2 separate regions of the Homo sapiens genome follow, and region 1 is linked to region 2. The links come from fine-mapping of genetic effects on gene expression. A gene starts in region 2. The other region holds a variant in brackets. All regions are shown on one strand. Distances are from middle to middle. Region 1 overlaps TCERG1L (transcription elongation regulator 1 like). Region 2 holds the start of TCERG1L-AS1 (TCERG1L antisense RNA 1).

Region 1 (8,327 bases), 110 kb after region 2:
GGGGAGCCCTGCTCTCATGTATCCACTAGGCATTACTCTAGCAAGGGCTGTCTGTGAAGACACCACCCCTGGCAGATGGGGCCCCGAGCCTCTCTGAGGCTTCTTTTGCATCTGGGGTGGAAGAAGCTTGTGCCTGCTCAGCTCATGCACCCCGTGCACCTGCAGAGGCAGCGCCACGTGGACAACACCAAGGTCACAGCTGGTACCTTCTGGGGCAGCAGGTCCAGCCTCTCACCTGGCCCACTTGAGCCACAGCTGGGGCGGCTGATGAGTGCTGGGTCAGAATGAGGGGAATGGAAACTTGAGGCAGCCCTGCGCAGTGAGCCCCAAGATCTCATGGGCACCCTGGGCCCCTCCCTGAGCCCTTCCACCCTCAAGGGCCTGGCTCTCTGGGCCTGTGAAGGACTTGGCAGCCCCAGGCTCTCTGAAATGCCTGCAGGCTCCTGCTCCCGTTGTCTGGTGAACAGCATCTGGCCGTGGCCTATCTGTACTCACCCTTTGATCAAAGGGTGCCTTGGCTACCCTTGGTGCTCTCTCCCCAACCCCCTTCTCATTCTGTACCTGGCCAGACAGAGGATGTTCCAACTTTAAGCTCTGCTTCTCTTTTGATTGTAAATTCCATTTTTAACTTGTTTCCCTCTTTTCACATTTTACTATAAGGTCAAAAGAAGCATCCTGAACCCCTTGCTGCTTAGAGATTCCTGACAAATGTCCTAGTTCACTGCTCGCAAAGCTCTGCCTTCACCAAGTCCCAGGACACAGACACAGCTCACCCAGTTCTTGGCCACATTATAACAAGGGTACCCTTCCCTCAGTTTCCAATACCTTGTTGCTGAGAAAGAAAATAAACTTTTTATCTGAGGAATGCAAGCCCCTTTAAAGTAACAGGCCTGTTAAATGGGCATTAAAACTATGACAGCAGTCACGTCACACCCCCTTGAGCTAAATAATTACTTCTTGAAGCCACCTGCTCTGTGGGGTCTCAACTGACAACAAGCAGTCATAAAGGGCCACATACCAGGCACCATCATCACACCCTGTGTTCAGCAGTGCACAGCCAATCACTAAACAGTGCCCCTCCTGTAAACAGTGGGAAATCCCACCCGACAGCTTTGTAGCAGCCACCCCTCGTTCTCTTTCGCCTTTAAACACCTACTCGGAGCACTCCCCTATGCAACCTAGAAGTGTGTCCCGGCGGCTGCCCTCACTCTGGCTCTAGCAAAGGCTGTAAAATTACCTGCTGTGTCTCAGCTTCTCCCTTTAGGTCAACATTCCTCCTTTCCATCTGAAGCCTCCTCTGAATGGCCCTTCCCATCTATATCACTACTTTTCCCGACAGCTCTCCCCTCCTCTGAGCTCTCACCAGGATCGTCCTTAATGCTCTGTTCATGGCAATGCAGGCTTTTCCCAGCATTCACTCTGAAACGATTCCAGCCTCTGCCCCATTCCTGGTTCTAAAGCTGCATTCACATGTTGGGTATATTTTATGGCAATAGCCCACTTCTCAGCACCAGTTTCTGCCTTAGTCTCGTTTGTGCTGCTAGACAAACGAGCTGAGGCTGGGTATTTTATGAAGAACAGAGGACAGAAGTCCAAGGCCAAGGCACTGGCAGCTCTGTTGTCTGATGCAAGTTCCTGGCCACTCCACCCCAAGGAGTGTGGAGGGCCCAACCCCTGCTCCTGTGTCTGGAACATGGAGTCAAAGAAGGTGATTCTCAAACCTCGAGATGTAATGCCATTTGCATTGTTGGGTATTGAAATTACTTTGGATCAGCTACTCTTTCCTTCTTGCCTATGTCTCCTTTTTGGAATCAGGATGTTTATCCTATGTGTGTTCCACCATTGTATTTTGGAATCGGATGACTTGCTTGATTTCGCAGGCTCACAGCTGGAGGGAAATTTTCCTCGGAATAAATCACACTTTGGGTCTCACTCATATGATGTTTAAAAGACTCTGCGCTTTTGAGTTGATGCTAGAACAAGTTAAAACGTTTGGAATTACTGAAATGGAATGAATGTATTTTGCGTGTGGGAAGGACTCAAGTTTTGAGGGTCAGAGTAGAATAATATAATTGAATATGTCCCCTCTAAAATTTAGAAGTTAAAACTTAATGGTCATGTGAACACATTAAGAGGTGGGGCCTTTAGGAGTCGCTTAGATCACAAGGGATCCTCCCTGGCAAAGGGGATGGAGGCCCTTATAAAAGAGGCTTCTCGCACGGTTATCTCCCACTTGCCTTTCCCCCTCCTGCCAGTGCTGTGAGGACACAGCCTCCCTCCCCTCGGGCGGATACAGAATCACGGCGCCATCTTGGACGTGGAGGGCAGCTTTTGTGGTCTCATGACCTGTTAAAGGCCGTGCCTCTTGACACCATCACACTGGCAACTAAGTTTCAACACATGAAACGTGGAGGGGACACATTGGAACCATCACAAGAGGTGAAAGAATTCCTGAGAGTCAGGCCCACCACCCGCATAGCTGGCTTTGCCTCCCTGGAAAGTGAGCCCCCAAAACACATCCCACTAAACTCAAACTAAATGAAGCACCTCCCTTCCCCCAGCTGGGTCCTGCCACACCTACAAACACTCCACCACCACCCACAAGGCAGGGACAGCGACAGAGAGGGTCACGCTGGGAACAGACAGCAGCCTTCCTGAGGCCATCGAACATCCGCAGATTTTACACAGACACGTGATCGTGGGAGCACAGCGCCAAGAGTTCCCCGGGGTCTCGTAAGGCGCCAAAAAGGAGGGTCCCAGTACTTCAGTTTCATTCATTCATTATGGACCCGTCACTGCCAATGTAGAATTGTTGCTTTACTTACTATTTTAACAAACGCCACAATCTTAGAAGCTCTTAATAAGCATGATTTAAATGGCTGCAAATAAAAAAATATATAAAAATAAAATAAATCAATGGCTGCCAAATATTTCTACAAAACATGGACTGCAATTTGCTCTGCTGCTGCTGTTGGGCATTTGGACTTCTTTTTTATATTTAATCTCCGAATTTTACACTGCATTCTGTGGGATGTCCTCATGCGTCCTTCTCTGCGGGACTGTAATGACCTTCTAAATGCTCAGCTGTGAGTGAGTTTTTCAGAGCTGCCGGCTTTGCTAAACATGGCTGCTCTTTTACCCCACGTCCACCACCACGCTGTGCTGAAGGCGCATCCATCGACCTTCCTCAGAGACGAGGAAAGAGCCAATGAAAGATGCTAGAAAGCTCTAACAAGTCCCAGGGCCACGTGGGGGTCACGGGGGCTGGTTCTCTCCAGATCCTGTAATGCGTTTCCGATGACTGCTCCTTAGGAAAGGTCCCATGGACAGAACTGCTGGGTTAAACAGACAAACTAATTAAGAGTCTCGATTTATATTAATCCATTTCTTTCCAGAAGCGTTGTACCAAACTGCATGATCACCAGCTGCACGTGAGCCTCCCGACCACATGAAGGAGCACAGAGAACGTACACGCTCAACTGATTGTAACAGCCCACGTTAGAAACAGACTGATGCCCCCAAAGCAAGTAGGTATGCGCATGTCTGCACCGTGGGGTACCACAAAAGCTGGTAAGGCCGGAACTTTTTCGCCGGGCGCGGTGGTTCATGCCTGTAATCCCAACACTTTGGGAGGCCGAGGAGGGCGGATCACCTGAGGTCAGGAGTCCGAGACCAGTCTGCGCAACATGGTGAAACCCCATTACCACTAAAAATACAAAAATGAGCCAGGCGTGGTGGCGAGTGCCTGTAATCCCAGATACAGGGAGACTGAGGCAGGAGAATCCCTTGAACCTGGGAGGCGGAGGTTGCAGTAAGACAAGATCATGCCACTGCACTCCAGCCTGGGTGACAGAGCAAGACTCCATCTCCAAAAAAAAATAAAAATAAAAAACAGATTTTTTCAAGTTCACTACATTTTGGTCTTTAAGGTACACTGCTAAGTAAAACAGTAACGTAGCGGAATTCAAGTCAATAACATCCTCTCCACATTTTCAGGAATCCATAGGCTTGCATGGAATACACTGGAAATATTCTGATTATCTGATTATCAATAGAAGTTTCCAATATGAGAAGAATAGGGTTGGGAGGAGCTTGATTCTATAAGCTTCTAAATTGTTTCCATTTTTAAAATAAAATATGTTCATTTTTTACAGTTTATTTAGAAAAAAGAAACACTTAAATAATTAAGTCTGCCGTCTGTGGAAACGTACACCTCAGTTTTGATTGCTTCATGATTCATATTAACCAGGTGCCATCCTAAGTGGAAGTTTGAGTGAAGAGGTTTATTCTGGTTCACAGATTGTGGGGACAGAAGTCAAAGGTCACGCCGACACCGATGTGCTTGATTTATCACACAGCTGCCAGGAATTCCACTTACAAATTCAAGAACCATAGACAACAGCCCTCAAAGCTTTTCAATGACAGCAGTGAC[G/A]CCTTCTCAGGAGTAGTGACAGTGTTCATGGATATGCGTATACCTGTCTTCAGCCCTCCGAGCTGCGCTCTCTGGGTTACAGAGCACAGCTGGGTGGTAGATGACCTCACTTAAGACTTCCAGTACGTCCCACTGCACTCTCGCATGGGTGACAGAGTGAGACTCCGTCTCAAAAAAAAAAAGACTTCCAGTATGTCACAGTGGTGACCTTCATGGTCTCGTCACTTAAGATCAGCTCACTGTTTAATGAGGCTGATGACAAAAAAGCACCCTAAGACCTCTTTGACCAGACAGCAAACTGCCTCTGGTAGAACATCCAAGCTGGCCCCAATCACAGGTGCTCACGTCTCTATTTTAAGGGAATGCATGCACAGGACTTCTCAGCCTCATGGGAAAACGCCCCCGTCATGTCAACCGTTCACATTCGAAGATGGTGCGTCTCTCCCATGAGGATGAATGTGGGTCACCGCAAACGATTCAGGGACACATCTGCTTCTGGTTTGTGGCCCTGCCATACCGAGTTTCAGAGAGGTTGGAATCCAGAGGCCAGTAGGGGCCGGGAGGTGGGGAAGGCACTCTCCTAACTGCTGCTTCTGCTCACATCCCGCCGGCGAGCGCTAGCCCTGGGGGCAGCCTGGGAAATGTGATGGCAGCCTCCCTAGCCACTTTCCACTTCAGACCTCCTCCAAGTGGGGGGTGGGCATCTTAAGGGGACAGCTGGCTGTCTCCACCGCAACCCAGCTGGGAGGGGAGAGGCGTGATGTCACATTAGGTCACACTAGGGCATGAATACGTGAGTCCCCACAAAACCCCAAAGTAGGAAGCTAAGCCCCAATAGGACGATATGAAGAGGTGAAACCTTTAGGAGATGTGAAGTGATGAGAGCAGAGCCCTCATGGATGGAATGAGCGACCTCATGGAAGGCCCGAAGGGAACCAGCTAGGCCCTCTTAGCCCTTGCTCCCTCCTGCCATGGGAGGACACAGCAAGGAGGCGCCATCTTGGAAGCCTGGTGGCTTAGCACTGGGCCTGGGCCTAGCTAGGGTCTTGGCAGCTCTCATCAGGCACCAGATCTGCTGATGCCTTGGTCCTGGACTTTCCATTCTCCAGACCTGTAAGAAAAGCATTTCTCATCTCTATAAATTGTCTAGTCTAAGAGTATAGAGGAGCGGGAACAGACTGAGACAGGTCACAAACCAGCAAGTGGGCTGGCCCGATGGCCCCACCACAAGCAGGCTCAGGAAACTGGCACCTGCCCCCCCACCCTGCCCCCGCATCTACATGGCCTCCATATGCACAGCTTGAAAATGGGGATGAGGATGAGTCCATCCACCCCAAATGCCAGAAAGCACCTGTCAAAGCCATTTCCCATGTACAGTGGAGAAACTGTCCGTGATGGTGGGTCCTGGCTTCCCAGCAGCGGTGGCCACAGTCACTGTGTGGGCTCCAGTGGGGCACGGAGCCAGCTCAGATCCAAAGGTGTGTGTCCTCAAATCAAAGGACATCTGTCCAGTGTCCTTCCACTAGAGGCTAAAATAAACCAATGAGCCTGCGGGTAAGGGAAGAATGTTTCTTGGGGCAGAAGACTCCCTTCAGGGAGAGGCCCCGATGGCAGTGGACTTGTCCCTCAGCCCCTTCACAGCCTGGCCCCAGGCAGAACAGGTTGGCTGGAGAGAAGAGCCCACCTCTCGGTTTTATGAACAGGCAGAGGAAGGGATCCTTGATGGAGGTTCACACCATCTCTGACCACAAGCCCAGTGGCCTTTCTGCTTGAAGTCCAGGGTCTTGACCATGGGGTCAGGGCTCACGTGCTCTGCAGCTGGATCTGGTCTAAGGCCCCTGTCCCTGGACCTGTCATGCCCTCAACCCCTGCCACCCGGCTCTTTCTGGGGCTGCACTGAGAATCCAGCCTCTCCCAGACCAAGCGGCCCATGGCATCAACTCAATGGCAGCCTCTCCCAAAATCCAATTTCATTACACCTGGCTTTACTGCCGTTGTGACTGACAAGTGGTCCCCTTAAAAAGGGAAAAAGAAGGTTAATGCTCGCAATTCATCCTTTTATCCCAACAGCTCTCCTTTATGGAACGCCACATAATTAACCAGTGACGTGCACGCCTCATTGTGAGGCACAAATCAGATGCATCCCAACTCTCTGCTGTGTCACTTGCTTCAGAAATGTGAAGCTATGAAACCTAAACAGGTTTTCAATTTCTCCTAATGTAAAAAAAAAAAAAAACAGCAATAAAATCAAAAAGTGAGAGAAAAAGGGAGAAAAAGTTAGACTCTGGAAATAGCATCCTTCATGAAACTACATTAGATGTGAATTATTCCCACAATGATTTCTCTGTGGAATTGCCTCATTCCAGCCTGTATCTCACATTAGGGAATTTTGTAACAGGCTGAACTTTTATTTAAAAATGCTTCTCTTAAGTAGCTCCAGTGCAGCCCTGGGGACGTGGAGGTAAACGCCGCCTTCCATGGCCTTCCCTTGGCAGGGCACATCCTGGCCTGGGGTCATGGGGCCACCCTGGCATCTCTGACTGCCACTTCCTGGAAAGGCAGCATGTCCGCAGCCACCTTGCTGAGGTCACCTGGTCTTGGAGGCTCAGCACGGCGGACCTCATCCTTCCTAAGAGGCTGCAAAGGTTGTTTTATCCAAAAGATGTTTTATGCAAAGGGTGCAGGAGACGGGAGGCTGTGGGAGCCCCTGGGATGGACCCAGAGTTGGGAAGCTACGACAGAGGGCCGAGGTGGTGACTGCCCTCCACCTGGCTCCTGTGCCAGGTCTCTGTGGGGTCTGTGGGCAGACAGCTTGCCATATGAGCAGGGGTCCACGGGCAGATGGTTTGCCATATGACCACAGAGGTCTTACTATAGCTCTGTAGCTCCTTTGTCTGGAAGACTCTGAAAGGGCAGGAAAATGGATGCTGCAGACACGAAGCCCTCAGGATTCCCAGGCGGGAGAACTGGCTGGTGGCTCTGGAATAAGAAGTACAGGCGGATTTGAAGGATGTCATGGACAACGAATGAACTGCCAATCGGGTGTACGCCAAGGTCCGCAAAGGCAAATCCTCATGGAAACACCATCTTGGGTCACCAGAAGGGCTGGTCCTGCGGACCGGCTGGCAGCCTGGGAGTGGACTCAGGGCACTGGGCAGGGAGGTCAGCCCGGGACACACCCTCCAAGGGGGTCCTGGAGTGAAGACCGGTGTGGGAGCTCTGCCCAGGCCTCCCAGGCCCTGGGGCCCCAGACAGCCAAGGAAGGGAAGAATCCACCTGCCTCACCTGAGCCTTCCTGGAGCAGCCCTCAAAGGAAGGGGCACGAGGAGAGGCAGAATAGAGGGCGTTTTATCCATGGAACAAGCGCCCCTCGTGGGCGGCTGCCCGCCAGGCCTTGCACAGGCCCTGGGTGCAAAGTCCGTGCAATCAAGGACCCCGTGGCTGAGCTCAGTGGGCAGCATGTGAAGGAGGGGCAGAGGTCACGTGTTCCCAAAGGGACGACTGTGATGAGAACAAGAGCATCGTGAGGGGTGCAGGGTCCTCCTGGAGCCCAGAAGTAGCAGCTGAGCTCAGCCAGGGTGAAATAGTGGCTGGGGCAGCCCCGACAGTGATTTCCCAGGGATGTGGGGTGTAGGACAGGGAGGCCTGGTCCTCCTTGAAGAGGACAAGATCATGAGGAGAGGGTGGGGTGCGTCCAGGGAAAAGCCAGATGCTCCTCTGGCCAAGCGAGTGGTGCGGGAGGACGTGGAAGGATTTGGTACAGTCACTTCACTCCCAGAGGGGCCAGGGAAGCAAATGGTCTTTGAAACTCTGTTTGTTCCTAATTCTCAAATAGGCCTTTCTTGGCGTCCCCGTGGCTGGTCCCCTCCATCAGTTCCCCTCTTCAGAGCTGAGC
Region 2 (8,327 bases):
TTGAAATAAATGAATGGATGTTTAATAGTTTAAGGAATGCAATTAATTAGTGAAGGTTTTGCCAAACGTGGTTCCACCCAGGACTACTAAGTATGTTGAAAAGTGAGATTCTGTGTGAGTGGCATTTTCATGGCCCTTATTGCAATCATCGGGATTTTTTTTCTCCCTGAATCTTTCAAAACTGGGTATCTTTAGTTGAAACACAATGTTGCTGCTTAAGATCATGGGGAATGTCTTAGTCACACATACACACACTGGTTTAAAATATTTATTGATTAAAAAAAATTAAAAATTTTTTATACAAAGGTGATGAGAAAAAATCTCATGCAAACTCCGGGCATACAATAAAAATAACTCAAATATTAATATGATGATTTTGTACAAAATAATTCTTTTGAAGTAGGACCGGTGGCAACCAACACGGCTCCCTGCTCCAGGCCGGGACGCCCCTCTGGGAGGAACGCGCGGCCACCCTTGGAAACCTGTAAGTGATCCACGGTCCAGGTGTGGAATGCTCACAGTTGTCACTATGATGAATGATGAAAACCCTATTGCTGCTACTCAGAAACGAGACTGAGACCTAGGGACAGAGTAAGGAATTCCTCAACACTGCGGGAATCCTGGAGAAACGAAGTAATTCACAAAGGTTTTCAGAAAAGTTTTCGCCAATCGTCTTAGGTGATGACACAAATGCCTTGAGATTGTTACAGAGGCTCCCGTTCCTGCTTCCCCACAGTCCTGCAGTGGATTGATAATTTGTGTATATTACAAGTAATTTGCATAATTAAAACAATTAAGGGATCGACGTATCACGGTGATTAGAAATGCATCAAACTCTGAATGTACAAAAGAGAGAGCTTCAATATGAAACAGTAATCCTCTGAGAACGAAGACCCCGCAGTGCCGGTGCCCGCTGGGCCGTGCAGGTCTCGGCCGCCCCACGCCCGTGTCCGTCTCCACCGTGACCCCCTCGCCCCCGGCACGCCCAGGGTCAACCCCCGGGCTTATTGCATTTTTTCACAAACTCATCTCATTTTCCGCAGCCTTAGTCTGTTTTCCTTGTCCCGTTTCTTAAGAATAAGTATGAATTGGTTGAAAAAATGCTCCTGGTCCTTTCTTTTTTGAACAAGTCGGAACCTCTGATCCCGGCCGTATTTCTCTGCAAACTCCTTAAACGTGGTCCTGAAAAAGAAAGAGTTTCCTGAGACACCTTCCAGAGAGCAACTCTGGCCTCCCCAGAGATCCTGCAGCGGCACCGCCTGAGCAAGCATCCAGCCCTTCCACCAGGCCTGGCCGTGGGTGGCAGGGCACCCGGTGGGTGAGCGGCTCTGACCAGCCGTGCCTGCTCCTCACCCGGGTCCTGCAGGGCCCTGACCCACCCTCACTTGCAGGACCCCCTTGTCTCTCCTCTGAGTGGTCTCCGGAAATGAGCGGCCCCCACCAGCCTCCTCAGCCGTCTCATGCAGCTGTCACTCCCCCAGCCGCCCCGATCACAGCTTTGCTGGCCAGGTCTCCTCCGCCCCTCCCTTGCTGCCACCAGGCTCTGCCTGCCACGGTCTTTCTTACACTGTTCCCTCTGCCTGGTACACCCTTCCCTTGTTTCTTCCCCCAGTTAGAGCTGCTCGTCATGAGAAACCAGGCCAGGGGGTCTTCTTTGGGAAACTCGCCCTATCTAGAGGCTCAGAGAACTGTGACTCCATCACAGCCCTCTTCACAGTGGTGATCTTGTTAAACCTCACTTGCGGAACTGGACTCCCACATTCGAATGAGGGAGACATTATCTGCTTCGTTCTCCAATAAATGCCCTGAATGTCCAGCCCAGTGCCTGGCAAGTAGTGAGCCCCAAACACTGATGGAGCGAATCAGAGCTGCCAGGCCAGGTGGTGCCCCGTAAGAAAATGCGAGCGACCCAGCCTAGAGCAGCAAGGCTGTTCTCAAGGCTACGGCAGCTTAGAGGGCAAAACAGGATGCGCCTCTGCTGTGACCAACTGACCTTCGCAGGCACCGGGCCCCGCAACTTCCTGTTCTCTTAGCCTTGAACTTGAAGCCAGGGACAGGGACAGAGGTAGAGGGACCAAGGCCTGGAGCCGCTGGCCTATGCAGATGCACTCGCTTGTCCAGCGACAGTCGGGCAGGGCCTGGCCTGGGCAGTGTGCTCTGGGGTGCACGGAAAATGTGGACATTCTTTGTCCGGGGGATTCTTCTTATTCCCTCCCACTTCTCCTTACAGAGAATTTTACACTTCCTTGCAGACACGGAATTATTGTGTTAAATTATTATAACTTAATAGCTTCTGAAATATACAAACAACAAGATTATGCCGACATGGCTGTTAGAAGACAAGACAAATAATTAGCAGACTCATGCTCATTTCTGTCATTGAACAATTCGTCTCATTCCTTCCCCAAGGCGCTGCCGTTTTCCTGCTCTCCGTCTGTGGGGGTGCTTGTTTACACATCTCTCGCAAGAAAAGCGCTTCTCTCTGGCTTCCCTCTTCCTCCCTCCCTCCTTCCTGCCCTCTCCCCTGCCTTCCCTTCCTCCTTCCTTCTCTCCCTCCCTCCTTTTCTCCCGGTTCCTTTCTTCCTTCTCTCCCTCCTTCCCCCTTCCTTCCTTTACTGATGTAACCACCTTGGTGTACCTTGGCTAAGCCACACTCCACCCCGACCTGCGGGGGATGAGTCAAACGGTCAGACTTGCCTGGGCTTGTTCCACGCTCCCCTGGCTAGACAGGCATCTACACATTCTCAGTTAGGGGCTGGACAGGGGCAGCTGCTAGACAGGCCCTATTCTGGGCCTCTCTGAAAAGAAGAGTCCCTGAAAAGAAAGGGAGCCTCCCGCTTCCGTGGCCCCTTAGCCATGCCAAGGGGCAGCAACCGGCTTTCTGCTGATGCTGATGAGCTGTGGTGTGAACTCACGAAGGTCAGCTGATTCACAGGCCCTGGATCTCTGCTCTCCCTCTGCTAAGTGGGACTCGGGCCAGCCTGCCATGAAGGAGGCGGCTGCTGCAGCTCTCAGGAAGGAACACTGGGCGGCTAACCCCACCGGGCGGCCAACCCCACCGGGTGTCAACCCCACCGGGCGGCCAACCCCACCGGACGGCCAACCCCACCGGGCGTCAACCCCACCGGGCGGCCAACCCCACCTGGCTAGGACCCAGTCCCCGGTAGCTGCTCTCCCGAGAGGCGGGCAGGGCTGGGGCTAGGGGCTGTCCAGGAGTGTTCTGGACTGTCCCGTCGCCACCATTCCCACAGGCTGCTCAGGACCGAGGCTGAGACGGGCGACCAGGACGGGACTGTATGGCTGCAGGAGGCTACACAGCCTCAGGAGGCTGCTTCTAAGAGGCCCACGTCGCCTGCATGGGGACGCGCCTGGCTCTCCAGCATGTGGTCATTTGAATTGTACATGTTTCACTAGGATGCCTACAGAAAAGTATACAGAAGATCTGGAAAAAGTTTTTGAAATGTTGAAAACTTAGCTACTTTTAAAATGAAAAAAATAGCTTTATAATTATCAAAGCAATATATCCCAGTGTAAATTTTAAAATAATTTGCTACATTATAGTAAGCATCTTATCTCTATGTGCCCTATAACATTATGTTGTATAGTTTAAATATATACAATAAAATTTATTTTAAAAAATAGCAGGCAATTAACTCTCATTTTAAAAAGAGTCCGTTTAACTCCCTTCTAATTTCTACCACTCGTTTTCCTTCTGTGTGCGTGTATGTGTGTATGTCATCTTTTTTAAATGGCTCAATGCATTCCGAATATTTTTTCCGTTGTCTTCATGATGTATTCATGGGAAGGGGAGTATGTGGCTTATTGCTGCTAGTTTATCAATAGAGAATGCTGGCCAGATGTCTTTAACAGTAATGATGGTCTCAATAGCAGTAATGACAGCTACCACTTTCGGAGCTCCTCCTGCCTGCCAGGCACCGTCGGGGTCCCTCCCTGCAACTCCTCACGCCATCCTCCTCGTCACTTTCTGAGGTGTGTGTGGTCATCCTCCCATTTGGAGGAGGGCTCGGGAGCACAGGAAGGTCCAATACTTACCCCATGGCCAGGAGAAGATGGGCCAGGGCCAGGCTGTGAACCAAGGCAGAGAAGGGGCTCCAGCACCTTTCCAGAGCCCTTGCCTCCTCCGCCTCTGTCCCAAGGCCACCTGGTGGGTGGACACAGCTAAGCCATGGCTAGAACCCAGCATTCTCATGACTGCTTTAACAATGGAAAATCACAAGTTGCAGGCAACAGGACACACATTTCCTTGTCTACATTAGCACTTGTGATGAAGATAATTCATGCTATTTTTTCCCTATTCAGAAAGTACCTGTCCTTAGAATAGCTAGAGAAGTTTTATGAGGATTGTGTAACTAGCACTAACTTAGGTCACCTAATTCTTGATCAACCAAATCACAGGTCAAACAAAGGGGGCCTATGCCTTCATAGAAAGCATCAATTAATGTCCATTTAAAAACCGATGCAGGCCAGGCGCGGTGGCTCATGCCTGTAATCCCAGCACTTTGGGAGGCCAAGGCGGGTGGATCACAAGATCAGGAGATCCAGACCATCCTGGCTAACATGGTGAAACCCCGTCTCTACTTCTCTACTAAAAATACAAAAATTAGCCGGGTGTGGTGGTGGGCACCTGTAGTCCCAGCTACTTGGCATGTACCCAGGAGGCGGAGCTTGCAGTGAGCCGAGATTGCATCATTGCACTCCAGCCTGGGCAACAGAGCGACTCCATCTCAAAAAAAAAAAAAAAGAAAGAAAAAACTGATTCTGGCTGGGCATGGTGTCTCACGCCTGTAATCCAAGTACTTTGGGAGGTCGAGGTGGGTGGATCACCTGAGGTCAGGAGTTCAAGACCAGCCCGGTCAACATGGTGAAACCCCATCTCTACTAAAAATACAAAAATTAGCTGTGCATGGTAGTGGGTGCCTGTTATCCCAGCTACTTGAGAGGTTGAAGCAGGGAGAATTGCTTGAACCCCGGAGGCAAAGGTTACAGTGAACCAAGATCGTGCCATTGCACCACAGCCTGGGTGACACAGCGAGGGTCTGTCTCAAAAAAAAAAAAAAAAAAAAAAGAAACAAACAAAAAACTGATGCTGCATCTTCCAGTCTAAAATAAAAATACATTGTTAACCATTTTTATGCTTACGAAACTTACAGTTTTATAGTTCTAAAAGTAGTACATGTTCATTACTTTTTATTTATTTCTTTATTCTTTGAGACGGAGACTCACTCTGTCGCCCAGGTTGGAGTGCAGTGGTGCAATCAAGGCTCACTGCAAGCTCCGCCTCCCAGGTTTACGCCATTCTCCTGCCTCAGTCTCCCAAGCAGCTGGGACTACAGGCACCCACCACCACGCCCGGCTAATTTTTTGTATTTTTAGTAGAGACAGGGTTTCACCGTGTTAGCCAGGATGGTCTCGATCTCCTGACCTCGTGATCCACCTGCCTTGGTCTCCCAAAGTGCTGGGATTATAGGCGTGAGCCACCGCGCCCGGCCCATGTTCATTACTTTTTAAAGATCAGTCAATTAAAGCTAATTTTTAAGAAAGAGTTAAGCTTATGTATTCTTCCAATTTCTAACATCTATTTTCTTGTAAGTGTGTCTTATTTCATGGAAATAATGCCTCATTTATTATTTTAGTAAGTTTTGGCAACCTAGTTAACTCAGTTCACTTGTCCGGTGTATCAAATCTTCATTTTACTCTGGGACCAACTGTTAAGACATCTGGAACCAAGGGGTGTGGTAGGGGTTATGGTGCTGTTGTTTGTAGTCAGCTTTGCATTTTTGCTTCTTGATCATTAGATCAGAAACTAGACCTCATCTCATGAGTGCTCACGTATTGATTGGTTATTTGGGTCAGTCAGGGCTGCTGACGTTTGAAATGCATGCAGGGTAGGAATAAAATGGTTGTGATGCATTTGGTTAGCAAATAGCCCACTTTCCCAGGACTGATGAGAGGGACATTTGGAGGCTCATGACAGGCAGCATGATAGAGGGGAGCCAGGCTGGTCTCACTGGCAGGTCTTCAAAGCTCACACTTTCGTGTCTGTGGAAGGCTGGGTTACACGATTTAACAAAAACAAACCTGAAGAGTCCTCTTGTCATTGGTAAGTTCCCAGCCCCAGAAATCATCCGGTATATTTCTCTCTCCATACCTGGGAGACACTTTAGATTCCTCTAGAAGTTTCTTGAATTCTTCTTTGGCTAGCAGCAATTTACTTTTCTTTTCCTTGTATTCTTCTTTTATTCTTGTCTTGACAAACTGTTCAAATATCTTAAAACACAGATACAGAAGAAAAACATCATGAAATTGCATATCAGAAATGAAATCTTGTATTCCAAGCACAACATGAGAAAGCAGCAAGAATCTATGGCAAAAGCTGTTCTTGTTTACAGCTGCTGGAGTTATGAGCAACAGCCTTTCAGCATAGCTCTCAAGGATCCAAGCAGTCTGAATAATTAAACCTGGGTGCCCACACGGCCCGGCATTTCTCTACATGCAGGCGCCATTTCTGGGTCAAACGTGAAGCAGCCCTGCTGGAGAAACCCGGAGAATGACTTGGCTGCCCTCTCTGCAGGCGTCTGGAACCAAGTGGCGGTTTGGAACCCGTGCTGTAGGCTGCAGTGGTCCTCACTGTGCCCTCTGAGCAGCATCTGTAACGCGCGGCCTCCCACTGCCTCATCACGGCCAGTGGCACCAGAACACAGCAGAGCACTTAGTTCGTGCTAGTCACTTCCTAGGGTGACGTAATTGACATTCGAGTCTCCCAAAAATGACCTTAACTTGTGGAAAGAAAGTAAATTCTGCATCTCTGATCCCCACTTGTGAACCTGGGCGTCTGGTGCCTTGGGGAGGACTCAGGGTGCATAAGTGGTCTCTTCTGAGGGGGTCACAGGATGCCAGGCTGCCTGGGTCATCAGTGTGGAAACAACTGGCCAGGAGGCCTGACCCTCGGGCACTGGGCACTCCCATCTGACCAGAAATGCATCTCAAATGCTGCCCCAAACAGGAAAACCCTGCTCCTCAATGGGAGGGACATGCACATCAGCTGGCAGGCAATTCTGGGCAAGGCCCCAGGGCACTTCTCCTGGAACCTGGCAGCCCGCATAACGAGATGCAATCTCTTTGTGACAGGCCACAGAACCTCTTCTCTGTCAGGGTAAGATAGATCATTGTTCTAACCAGCGAAAAATGGTCATTTATAGACTACGGAGTCAAAGAGGGACAAAGTTCTTTCATTCCTAATGCTACCCCAAACTCAAGAACGTTAAAAATAAACTGAAGATAAGTGTTTACGCAAACATAATAAAAATATCAAGAGAAAGTCCACATAGGATCCTATCAGGCCAATAAATAGCAACTGGGCACCAATCCAACCAACGGCCAGGCAGATCCTAGAATGTGACCGAGGACCAAGCAGGCAGCTTCTTCTACACTCATGCCAAATGAGTGGGGATGAGAAAGCAAGGGTGGGCAGGTGAAAGCCTCGACCCCAGCACTGCTCAGCCCCTTCTCCGGAGTGGCTTTCTTCCCACTTTGTCTTATTGTTTCAGATTCCATGTCAGCAGTGGCAAACCTTTACAGGATTATGAATACAAAATGCCACTGGTCCCCTGAAGATACAGCAGCGAAATGAAACATCCACAAATATGACCTAAATTGAGAATATGTGCATGTATATGTAAGTAAGAATATGATTGGCTTCTTTTTTCTTTTCTTTCTTTTTTTTTGAGGCAGAGTCTTGCTCTATTGCCCAGGCTGGAGTGCAATGGCATCACCTTGGCTTACTGCAACCTCTGCCTCCTGGGTTCAAGCAATTCTCCTGCCTCAGCCTCCCAAGTAGCTGGGACTATAGGTGTGTGCCGCCACGCCCAGCTAATTTTTTTTGTACTTTTAGTAGAGACAGGGTTTCACCATGTTGGCCAGCCTGGTTGCGAACTCCTGACCTCAGGTGATCCACCCGCCTCAGCCTTCCAAAGTGCTGGGATTACAGGTGTGAGCCACCACGCCAAGCCATAATTGGCTTCTTATGCCTTCAAGGCAAATAGCAATGTAAGTTCTTAGTTATCTTATATTTAACTAATAAAAAATTAATGCAGGGTTATTATCCAAATAAAAGCATGTGGCTCCATCATTAGCTAGAGTTTTGCTCTATTAATTTTAGACCTAGAGAGAAAGCCTGGCTGGCCGTGGGGTCAGGGCTCTTCAGAAATGCCTGCTTCTCTCTCTCTGCCTAGAACCATTTCTCCATCTCATCAAATGCTTCTCTCTTTCCTCTCCCTTTGCTCTGTTACTTTATTTTATGCTGCTAT

Evidence for each region.
Region 1: its variant is fine-mapped to the expression of TCERG1L-AS1 in thyroid (GTEx, PIP 0.98).

What each region holds. Positions count from the first base shown.
Region 1 is chr10:131,198,712-131,207,038 of GRCh38, forward strand. All of the region lies in intron 4 of TCERG1L (transcription elongation regulator 1 like), which reads right to left. LOC105378563 (a long non-coding RNA gene) reads right to left here. Exons shown (of 5, transcript XR_946484.1): 3 at 7,718-8,327; 4 at 5,808-7,411; 5 at 3,842-5,543. Among named protein-coding and RNA genes, the nearest start is that of TCERG1L-AS1, 110 kb to the left of the region's middle. The variant G/A (reference allele first, on the strand shown) is at 4,433.
Region 2 is chr10:131,092,137-131,100,463 of GRCh38, forward strand. It overlaps TCERG1L-AS1 (TCERG1L antisense RNA 1), which reads left to right and starts at 3,082. Exons shown (of 2, transcript NR_120623.1): 1 at 3,082-3,163; 2 at 3,252-3,641. It overlaps TCERG1L (transcription elongation regulator 1 like), which reads right to left. Exons shown (of 12, transcript NM_174937.4): 11 at 6,170-6,288; 12 at 255-1,182. The coding sequence ends at 1,026. RefSeq lists an enhancer at 6,350-6,851.